2 separate regions of the Homo sapiens genome follow, and region 1 is linked to region 2. Evidence: fine-mapped expression QTL. A gene starts in region 2. The other region holds a variant in brackets. All regions are shown on one strand. Distances are between the middles of the regions.

Region 1 (5,231 bases), 290 kb before region 2:
GGAGAACCCCTGAAATGACCTGCACTACTGAAGAAAGCCTGCCTGAATGGTGTATTCCACATCTGTAAACTTCAGGGAAAGACCCCTCCAATGAATTTGGAAATAAGTACTAAAATATTTGACACCCCAACGGCAAGAGGATTTTGCATCCTTTTCCCCAGTAGAATCACAGAAGTCAGATGTGATTTGACATGTAATAATAATGGATATCATTGATTGAACACGTTACGCTCTTGGCTGTGTGCTGCATACTTCATAAGTATTATCTCATTTACCCAATGCCCCATGAGATGGTTACCACTTTCTTATTCAGTTGCAGGCATTGAGGCTTATAAAGAGTTGTAACTTAGCCAAGTCACATGGATTGGGAAGATGGGAATCTGGGTATATCTGAATGTAAAGCAAATTACTCAACAATGCATCTTCACTGCAGAGCAAAATAGAATGCAGGGAGTCCTATTCTTTCTTCCTGTTGGGTTTGCACTTCCAAAAAACTTAAAGAACTTGTGAGAATCACTCTTATGAGTACAGAATGTCCACAAGTGGCAATCACAGTTACAGGAAAGGTTGACACCGTCAGTTCTGACTGCACTTACATTAATTAAAAACAGAAATTAAAAGGGAAGAAGGCAAAGGGGAAAGTCCCACTTTCAAATGAGGTCATTTAAACAATAAACTAGTTTCAGTAATTATTTAAAGGGAGCAGAACTGATTAGATATCAGAAATAGAACTAGGCCTTTTGGAGAAGAGGCATTCTCTAGAAGCCACTTCCCTTGCAGAATTTCCCTGAAAGATCACTTATTGTTTAGTTTAATATTTTCAAAAATAAGGAGTAACAAGATCTACTAAATTAGATTTGTTAGAAGATAAAGGATTACCAACAGTGGAATGTTTTCAGTTGATTGCAGCATAAAGAAGCGAAATCTAAGGTCATCATGAAGGAAAAGCATGTAAATACTGCCCTTGGATTTCATAGTGACAATATTTAAGGGGTCCTGGCCTAATTCAAGTTTGTTTCCCACTAAGTGCTAGACTTTCTTATCATAGCTTTCATTCCTTAGCTGAGAAATGATTATGAAAGCAGATATTTTCTTGGGAACTGAGTGAATTTCAAATATATGGTGACTTGATATCAGTGGATTAGGATTGTTGCAGCTGTGTGGGATGAAGGGTAGCCAACACACTCCCTGGAGTCCTGTAGAATGCACTTGTTATGAACCGAATGTTTGTGTCCCTCCGAAGTTTATATGTGGAAACCCTAACCTTCAGTGTGATGGTATTTGGAGTTGGAGCCTTTAAGAAGTAACTAGGTTTAGATGAGGTCATGAGCATGAGGCCTCCATAATGGGATTATTGTCCTTTAAGAAAAGAAAGAGAGACTAGAGAGTTTGCTCTCTCTTCCACATGAGGACAAGGCAAGAAGGTGATCATCTGCATTCCAGAAAAAGCCCTCATCAGAATCCAGCCATGTTGGCTTCTTGATCTTGGACTTCCCATCTTCCAGAACTGTGAGAAGTAAATGTCCATTGTTTAACCCACTCAGTCCATGGTTTTTTATTGTAGCAGCCCAGCTGACTAAGACAGACTGGTCCTAAAGTTTCTACCAGCCCCATTAGTGATGGTCACCAATACTCACATGACTTTCATAAAATGGCAGGAATAAGAGCTCCTGTGCTTGTACTAATTTAGAAACTTTACCATCTCCAACTTCTAACTTAGTCCTAAGGTATACAGATAGTCACTGACTGCTGATGGTTTGACTTTATGATGGGTTTATTGGAGCATTAAATGCATTTTTCAACTAGGTGCAGTAGTTGATGCCTGTAATCTCAGCCCTTTGGCAGAGCAAGGCAGGAGAATTGCTTTTAGCCCAAGAGTTCAAGACCAGCCTAGGCAATATAGTGAGACATTGTCTCTACTAAAAGAAAGATGAAAGGAAAGAAAGAAAAAGAAAGAAAGAAAGAATGAATGAATGAAAGAAAGAAAGAAAGAGAAAGAAAGATTAAAAAATAAAAAATACAATAAAATACATTTCTGACATAATATCTTCTACTTATCATGAGCTTTTCAGAATGAACTCCATCATAAGTGGAGGAACATCTGTATAGGCATTTCAAAAGGTAATGAGAAAACAAATTCATTCACTTTCCAAGTTGGTATTGGGCACCTACCAATGTGCCAGGCATTCAGAGTAAGTGGCATAGAAGGTGGAATAGGACAAAGCCACTGAAACACAAGTAGCCGTGCAATAGGGTCCACACTGCATACCAAAAAGAGGCAGGGCGTAAATATGCAAACATATGAAATGACCACTGACAGCAGAAGGCTTAACAACAAAATGACAACACTAACAACAATGCCATGAACTGTTCCAGACACTGGGTTCCTCACAGTCTAGTGGAGAAGGCCATGGAAAGGGCTGTGAGAGGGCCAAGGGCACTGAGGGAGGCCTTCTTAGTAAGGATGTCATACAGATTGCCACAGAAGGAAGAATCCCTTGGATGCAAAGGCAATGGCACGGGCAAGAGCAGAGTGGTGAAAATGGGTGTGCCCGGGTGTCAGTGAATGGTTTAATTTGGTGTGTGGCCGTTTCCCATATACGTGGGTCTGCTCAGTCAAAGAAAGCTGGCCTTAATCTGAAACAAAAATCAAATAATCGACAGAGTGAGACTCCATCACAAAAAAAAGAAATCAAATAATCATAGAGGAATAGAACAAAGAGAAAAGACGATCCAATCCTCTCATTCCTGTACTATCACTCTTTCCTATAGCTCATTCTATAACCTCAGGAAAGACCATCACTGGAGATGTTATTAGGGCCACTAGGATAAACTTTGGACCAGATAGTTTAGGCCAATCCTAATTTCATACATTCTATCCAATTATCCCCAGTATTCCCATTAATACACTCACACATGTAGGCTGAGAAACACTTAGAAACTTCCCTGTAGAGAAACATCTTCACCACTGGCCTTCCTTTGGGCCATTAGTTAAGATGGCCAGAAGGGGGTAAATACAAATCCATATTCATGTTATCAAAGAGAACAGCACAGCTCCAGAGGAACAAAACCCATGAATAGAAATGCTCCAGCCCAGGCAACATAGTGAGACTGTCTCTAGTAAAAATTAAAAAATTAGTCGGGCATGATAGCACATGCCTGTAGTCCCAGCTACTTGGGAGGCCAAGGTGAGAGGATTGCTTAAACACAGGAGGTTGAGGCTGCAGTGAGCTATGACCTTGCCACTGCACTCCAGCCTGGGCAACCAAGCAAGACCCTGTCTCTAAAGAAAGAGGAAGGAGAAAAAAGAGGAAGAAGAAGAAGAAGGAGGAGGAGGAG[GAGGAGGAGA/A]AAAGGGGAGAGGGGGGAGGGGGAAGGGAGACAGGAAGAAAAAGAATAAGAAAGAAATGCTTTGTTTGGTGTGGTAGAGGTGGAGAAGCATCATCCAGCTCCCTCTTGAAGGACTTGCCACCCAGCTGTGGGTAGTGAGATGAGCAAACCACTTTTGGCTGTCAGCCCCTTCTGATTGACCTCATCTGCAGACAGCCATCTTGCCCAGTCAAACCCTTCCCAGGTCAGCTTGCATCTGACAACTGAACGAGGCAGAAGCAGAAACACCCAGCAATGTTGACCTGACCCAGGTCAGCTCTAACACGTGACACTCATTCCTGAGCTCTGTGCAGGGTGGGCTGAGGTTTTCATTGTGTCACAGCTTGGCTTCTCACTGAGCCCAGTCCCACATCTTCCCCTCTTCCTTTCACAAGAGTCGATTCCTATTAAATGTCTTGTAACTCGAACTCTGTCTGTATGTTTGCTTCAGAAAATCTAAACCTGTGACGGTTAGAAATGGGGGTGGGTCAGAAAAATTTCAGGCAAGGAGCTTGTACCAGGAGAAGAGTGAAGAATCCCATACCCCTAGGAGGCCATGTGGATGTCTGGAGATGGAGAGGTATATCAATAGGGAAGGGGGACCCAATAAGGGTCAGAGGTCTCTGATGTATGTTAGAGAAGAAGGAATTTATTCCTTTCTTCATTCAATGATCACTTGTAGGGAAGACACTAGGGTAGGCGCTGAACTATGGGGATAAAAAGACACATTCCTGATCTCAAGGAGTTACAGACCAGACCCTTACACTCAGAGAAATGCAAACTTCCTAGAACTGGAATGTTTCAGGCAATAAAGCTTTTTGGAGATTAACTTAGATCTAAAGATGGTTTAGATACTTCAAAAATCTAGACCTCTCAAACAAAAGAAAAAGGAAATTCACCCATCTAATCCCATCTAATTCCCAGTAGCACTCTGAGAAGACCTAGAAGAGACAGCAGTTCAAAGACCCTTTTTGTTTTCTATTTACTTCTTAATCCAAGAGCCATACAGCATTGTTTATAAGAATAAATTCTAATAGAAGTCACTATCTTCCAGCTCCTATACACACCATAAAATAATTAATAATAATAGTAATAAAAATGAGGCCCAGAAACACCAATTAAAGTGGCCCAAGAGTAGTGTGGCAAAATTCAGGTGTCTTGACTCTGTATTGTCTCCCTAATCTTAATTGTGACCTTGGCCTCTCTAGTAAAAAAGGTATGAGATGCTCCCAGAAAAGGATAAATAAATGTAAAATTATAATAACTGAATCCCTGGCAGTCTCCTATCAAGGGCAAAAATAAAGAAGATATAAAGAAATATGCTCTGTAACTTCCTAAAAGGCAACACGAATTTAGAGCAAGCTCCCTGACTGCATTTGCAAGACGTGGCATGAAGATATGGATCTCTGTGCAGCAGGACATTTTCTGTCTTCTTCCAATGGAGCACTTTCCACAAGACTAATATTCACAGGACATAGTGTTACATCTTGGAGTTTCCCTAAAGCTGAATAGAGTAACATCTTCAACTTTCCCTATCCTAAATGACATATTCTACTTCCCTAAAAAGATAGATCTATTTATGTATAAAGAACTTGATATCTTCACTTCCCCTGGATCCTCTCCAATATTCTCCCCCAATCCACATCCCCAAGGAGTTGATGTCATTACTTTCTTTAAAAAAGGGTTGCCAACTGTTATGGTTTGGATTTGTGTCCCTGCCCAAATCTCATGTCGAATTGTAATCCCCAGTGTGGGAGGAGGGGCCTGGTGGGAGGTGATTGGATCATGGAGACAGATTTCTTCTTTGCTGTTCTCATGATAGTGAGTAAGTTCTCATGAGATCTGGGTTTCTAAAAAGTGTGTGG
Region 2 (5,492 bases):
CTCCAGCCTGGGTGACTGAGCGAGACTCTATCTCAAAAAAAAAAAAAAAAAATTTCATAAATTACTATCAAATTGCATGATAATAATAAAGTACTTGGGAGAGCCTTGGTAAACTTAGCACAACAACACAGAAAGCACCTTTGTAATTCAAAAGCTGTCCAGAAATACCTGCTTGTTTCCCAGATGGGAAGGGCCTGACTAAACTTCCAGAAAATGTGACTAAACATATATATGTCAGGAATTGAAAACTATTAGCAATGAACATTATGTACCATCTAAGGCTTACGTTTAAGACTAATGTTTATTTCCAGTTTTTTTCTGAGTACTCTGTAGATTCCCAAGTTAAAAATTACTGTAGTTTCTCAAATCAGTTTGTCTCCTAATGGGATGATTTAAGGTGGGAAACACACATATATAATTTGAAAAACTCAGTGCGGGAAGTAACTCTCCCTGAGTCTATGGGTTAAACTTTCTGTTAACCCTGTTCAACTGGTTTTATAAGGCTTTCAGAAGGGGTCCTGCTGCTGCTAGTGCAGGCAGTTAAAAATAGTATGGAGAACAAGGGCTTGGGGGAAGTCTGAGTCCAATCCTAGCATTTTGTTGATTTAATATTTCTGTTTTTTAGATGAGACAATTTAAGCACATGACCGAGAGGCCAAGTTGGAGACCAGGTTTAGAAGAGAAAAACTTTCACTTGACTCCTAATTTGTACTCAGTGACACATTAACGACAATGTAAGTGAAAGCAGGGAACTAAGGGTGGGTCAGGTTAGGTGGGAGACCAGGAGTTGTTATTCTAGTGTTATGGTAATTTCATGAATTTACTTTTGCTTCTCGATCTTCTTTTTGAGTAGTAAAAGAGGTTTCATGCCTCCAGTGAAATTACTATTTTTAAGCAGAGTTCTATCTGAAAAGTTCTATAAGAAAAAAAAAAACCACTCTTTAATTTTTTCACATGTAACTACTTAGTTATGTGTACTAATGAAAAAATAATCTAGAAGTTATTTTTTCAAATCGAGTTTTACATATTTTTTAAACAATAAAACGTTTTCTCCTGTTTTATAATGTCATTATTTTTGCTTCATTTCTATATCCTTTAGCTCAGTATTAAAAAGAAAAAAAAAACACTCAAAGTGGTGTGTTTTGCAATATTGATGATCAACTAAGGTCGGGATATTTATTTCCATCTGGTAGAGTTCAACTTCTGCCTCCTGTTTGCTTTCTCCATCTGCCTGCCTCCCTTCATCTTTCTTTTTTTCTTTTCCCCCTTCTCCTTAATGGAGTTGGGGTTAACCCTGTCTTAGGCCTAATCGTTTTAGCAGGCTCCCGCCTTCCTGTTACACTGGTTTTTAAGGTTGTTTTTTTTTTTTTTTGGTAGGGTTTCAAATAAACTTGAATGTCTACACTTAATACTTTCACAAGCTTCAAATTCTTTTTATTTTATTTTTATAAAGAGCAGGACTCAGGCTAGGACGGCATTTGGACTAGGTAAAAAAGAAAATCTTCAGTTTTGTGCACACAAGTTTTAAAATACATTGTACAGATTTTTTTTTTTTGGATACACACCACTCTTTACAGGATCCGCGTTATATCTGCTTTCAGTAACTGGCTCTCCTGTCCGCATCCAGTAAGGTTTCCACTCTTCTCTCCGTTGACTGCTGAAGTTACTGAAACAGCAACCACAAATGGCCTTACTAACCTACTTATTTTGCAATTAAACTTTTAAAAGATATCCCCCTACTCCTCCCCTAGGGTGGAACAGAAATGGCTCCGCGGCGTTGGCAGCTCGTCTGCGAGGGGACCCTGGCTCCCCGAGGCTGCAGTCCTTTTTCTTGGACAGAACGCCCCGCAGGACCGTTCCCTCCACTTTCCCCCGCACTAAGGCAGCGCACCGCCAGCACACACAGCGCTGGCGCCCGCATCGCGCCGCACCACACGCGTCTCCGGCTTGAGGAGCCAGTCACCGAGACCCGGAGCGGGAACGAGATGTAAACACGGAGTGGGGACATGCAGCCCGATCTGAGAAGGCGGCGTGAAGAGTAGACACAGCCTGCGCCAGGCGGTTCTTATTTACCCAGCACTTACACTCCAGGGCAAGCGGGCCCAGGCAGCGCACTCTTGGAGAAGGATGCACTGGCGCAGAGCCTGGACCTGCTGAAGCGGGAAGGAGGAGCTAGGGCTGGGGGCGGAGCTTTCACACGCGCACCCTCTGTTCCCTCCCTCCCTCCCTCGACACAAGCAACTGGGTCTCCAGCCGCCACTCCGGGTTTATTTGTTTACAAGCGGATTACGTCAGCTCCTCCCTCTCTTCCCTATCTCTGGACCCGCCTCCTGAACTCTTTTCCCGCCCCTTTCGGCTCCGAACCGGCTTGCGTCACAATGGTGCGATATTCGGATTGGCTGGAGTCGGCCATCACGCTCCAGCTACGCCACTTCCTTTTCGTGGCACTATAAAGGGTGCTGCACGGCGCTTGCATCTCTTCGCCTCTCGGAGCTGGAAATGCAGCTATTGAGATCTTCGAATGCTGCGGAGCTGGAGGCGGAGGCAGCTGGGGAGGTCCGAGCGATGTGACCAGGCCGCCATCGCTCGTCTCTTCCTCTCTCCTGCCGCCTCCTGTCTCGAAAATAACTTTTTTAGTCTAAAGAAAGAAAGACAAAAGTAGTCGTCCGCCCCTCACGCCCTCTCTTCCTCTCAGCCTTCCGCCCGGTGAGGAAGCCCGGGGTGGCTGCTCCGCCGTCGGGGCCGCGCCGCCGAGCCCCAGCCGCCCCGGGCCGCCCCCGCACGCCGCCCCCATGCATCCCTTCTACACCCGGGCCGCCACCATGATAGGCGAGATCGCCGCCGCCGTGTCCTTCATCTCCAAGTTTCTCCGCACCAAGGGGCTCACGAGCGAGCGACAGCTGCAGACCTTCAGCCAGAGCCTGCAGGAGCTGCTGGCAGGTGAGCAGGGCGAGGGCGTCGGAGGGACGCGGGCCCCACATCCCTGGGTCAGAGTCCGGCCGTCGGGGCTGCGGGAACCTCGGCAGCGCCCCGGGGCCGGTCGCGCTTGGGCCCCGCCGCGGGACCGGTGTGGTTGCGCTGGGTGGCCGCTAACAGCGGTTCCCCGCGAGGCTTTAGGGGCTGGACGGAGGGCGCCCCCTTCCCCCCAGCTGGCAAAACGGAGAGGAGAAGACAACACGCACAACAAAGAAACTTAAGCCCACCGAGGCGGGAGCTGCGGTCCGAGGACCGTCGGCGGATTTGGGGACAAAGGAGCCGTGGGGCTGGGGTGGGTTCGACGTCCCCTTTCCTCAGCCCCCTCCAACCGTTGCGTGGTCGGCGGCCCAGCCCCGGGGTGGGAAGCTGCGCCGCTGCCCCGGAGCCAGCTCAGAACGGACGTGCCGTCTCCCCGCGCCTCCTGCCCCTGCCCATTAATCATCGGATTTGTCACCGGCACAATTAACAGCCCTGCCCAGAGCGTGGTTTAGGGTTGCTTGTTTTTCTTCCCTTCGGGGTTAACAGTCCGGTGGCGCTTCTCATCTCCAAAGCCATCAACTCCATTGTGTGCATCTGGGGTGGGGTGGAGAAAGTAAACAGTTTCTCGCCTGGCCATAGGTGCCAGTGGCTTCCCGACTGGCCGAGGCTGCGCGCCTGATTCCTGTTTTGGCGGCTCAACCGGTTGGTTCCTGGAGATTGTTTTGTCCGGTACTACTGTGTTATTTCTAAAACCCTGCCCGCTTTTTCCATCCCCGCACATGCACAACAACGGATGCAATCCTGGACATTTTAAAAAGTTGATAGTTTTCATTTTCGCTCCTCAAAGGAGCCTGGGGTAGGAGGAATCCGCAGTGGGAGCTAACGATCCTAAGCGTTGTTTCTCTGTTCTTCTTTTCTTCTATAGAACATTATAAACATCACTGGTTCCCAGAAAAGCCATGCAAGGGATCGGGTTACCGTTGTATTCGCATCAACCATAAAATGGATCCTCTGATTGGACAGGCAGCACAGCGGATTGGACTGAGCAGTCAGGAGCTGTTCAGGCTTCTCCCAAGTGAACTCACACTCTGGGTTGACCCCTATGAAGTGTCCTACAGAATTGGAGAGGATGGCTCCATCTGTGTGCTGTATGAAGCCTCACCAGCAGGAGGTAGCACTCAAAACAGCACCAACGTGCAAATGGTAGACAGCCGAATCAGCTGTAAGGAGGAACTTCTCTTGGGCAGAACGAGCCCTTCCAAAAACTACAATATGATGACTGTATCAGGTTAAGATATAGTCTGTGGATGGATCATCTGATGATGATGGATAAATTTGATTTTTGCTTTGGGTGGGCTCCTCTTGGGGATGGATTATGGAATTTAAACCATGTCACAGCTGTGAAGATCTGGCACAAGATAGAATGGTAAAAAAAAAAAAAATTTTAAGTGACAGTGCCATAGTTTGGACAGTACCTTTCAATGATTAATTTTAATAGCCTGTGAGTCCAAGTAAATGATCACTTTATTTGCTAGGGAGGGAAGTCCTAGGGTGGTTTCAGTTTCTCCCAGACATACCTAAATTTTTACATCAATCCTTTTAAAGAAAATCTGTATTTCAAAGAATCTTTCTCTGCAGTAAATCTCGCAGGGGAATTTGCACTATTACACTTGAAAGTTGTTATTGTTAACCTTTTCGGCAGCTTTTAATAGGAAAGTTAAACGTTTTAAACATGGTAGTACTGGAAATTTTACAAGACTTTTACCTAGCACTTAAATATGTATAAATGTACATAAAGACAAACTAGTAAGCATGACCTGGGGAAATGGTCAGACCTTGTATTGTGTTTTTGGCCTTGAAAGTAGCAAGTGACCAGAATCTGCCATGGCAACAGGCTTTAAAAAAGACCCTTAAAAAGACACTGTCTCAACTGTGGTGTTAGCACCAGCCAGCTCTCTGTACATTTGCTAGCTTGTAGTTTTCTAAGACTGAGTAAACTTCTTATTTTTAGAAAGTGGAGGTCTGGTTTGTAACTTTCCTTGTACTTAATTGGGTAAAAGTCTTTTCCACAAACCACCATCTATTTTGTGAACTTTGTTAGTCATCTTTTATTTGGTAAATTATGAACTGGTGTAAATTTGTACAGTTCATGTATATTGATTGTGGCAAAGTTGTACAGATTTCTATATTTTGGATGAGAAATTTTTCTTCTCTCTATAATAAATCGTTTCTTATCTTGGCATTTTAATCAATCTCTTGTCATGATTATAGAGGTTTAGCTAAAAGTATTTTTTCTTAGAAGACAGGTTCTATAAACTGAATCTCTGTTGCACACTGGTCATGCTGGAAAAACATTTGATGAGGAATGAAGATGCTCTGTATATACATGTTTAGGTTTTACAGGAAACACAGGAGTAGCATGTTTTAAAAATTTCTAAAGTCAAAACATGGACACATTCACAGGCTAATGATCTCATGAAATAAGGATAAGAGACCACGGTAGCATCTACCAAAAATGTGATACTCAAAGGATTACA

Evidence for each region. PIP is the estimated chance that this variant, and not a neighbour inherited with it, causes the effect.
Region 1: its variant is the best candidate, but not a certain one, in a credible set for the expression of BTG1 in whole blood (INTERVAL, PIP 0.67).

What each region holds. Positions count from the first base shown.
Region 1 is chr12:92,433,028-92,438,258 of GRCh38, reverse strand. No RefSeq gene overlaps it. Among named protein-coding and RNA genes, the nearest start is that of CLLU1-AS1, 2.6 kb to the right of the region's middle. RefSeq lists enhancers at 3,466-3,525, 3,546-3,605, 5,069-5,231. The variant GAGGAGGAGA/A (reference allele first, on the strand shown) is at 3,340.
Region 2 is chr12:92,142,836-92,148,327 of GRCh38, reverse strand. It overlaps BTG1 (BTG anti-proliferation factor 1), which reads left to right and starts at 2,482. Exons shown (of 2, transcript NM_001731.3): 1 at 2,482-2,940; 2 at 3,881-5,492. The coding sequence starts at 2,793. The coding sequence ends at 4,248. BTG1-DT (BTG1 divergent transcript) reads right to left here and starts at 2,243. Exons shown (of 3, transcript NR_135036.1): 1 at 2,085-2,243; 2 at 1,566-1,666. RefSeq lists enhancers at 1,831-2,130, 2,965-3,501, 3,461-3,510, 3,771-3,820, 3,841-4,080 and a silencer at 2,721-3,040.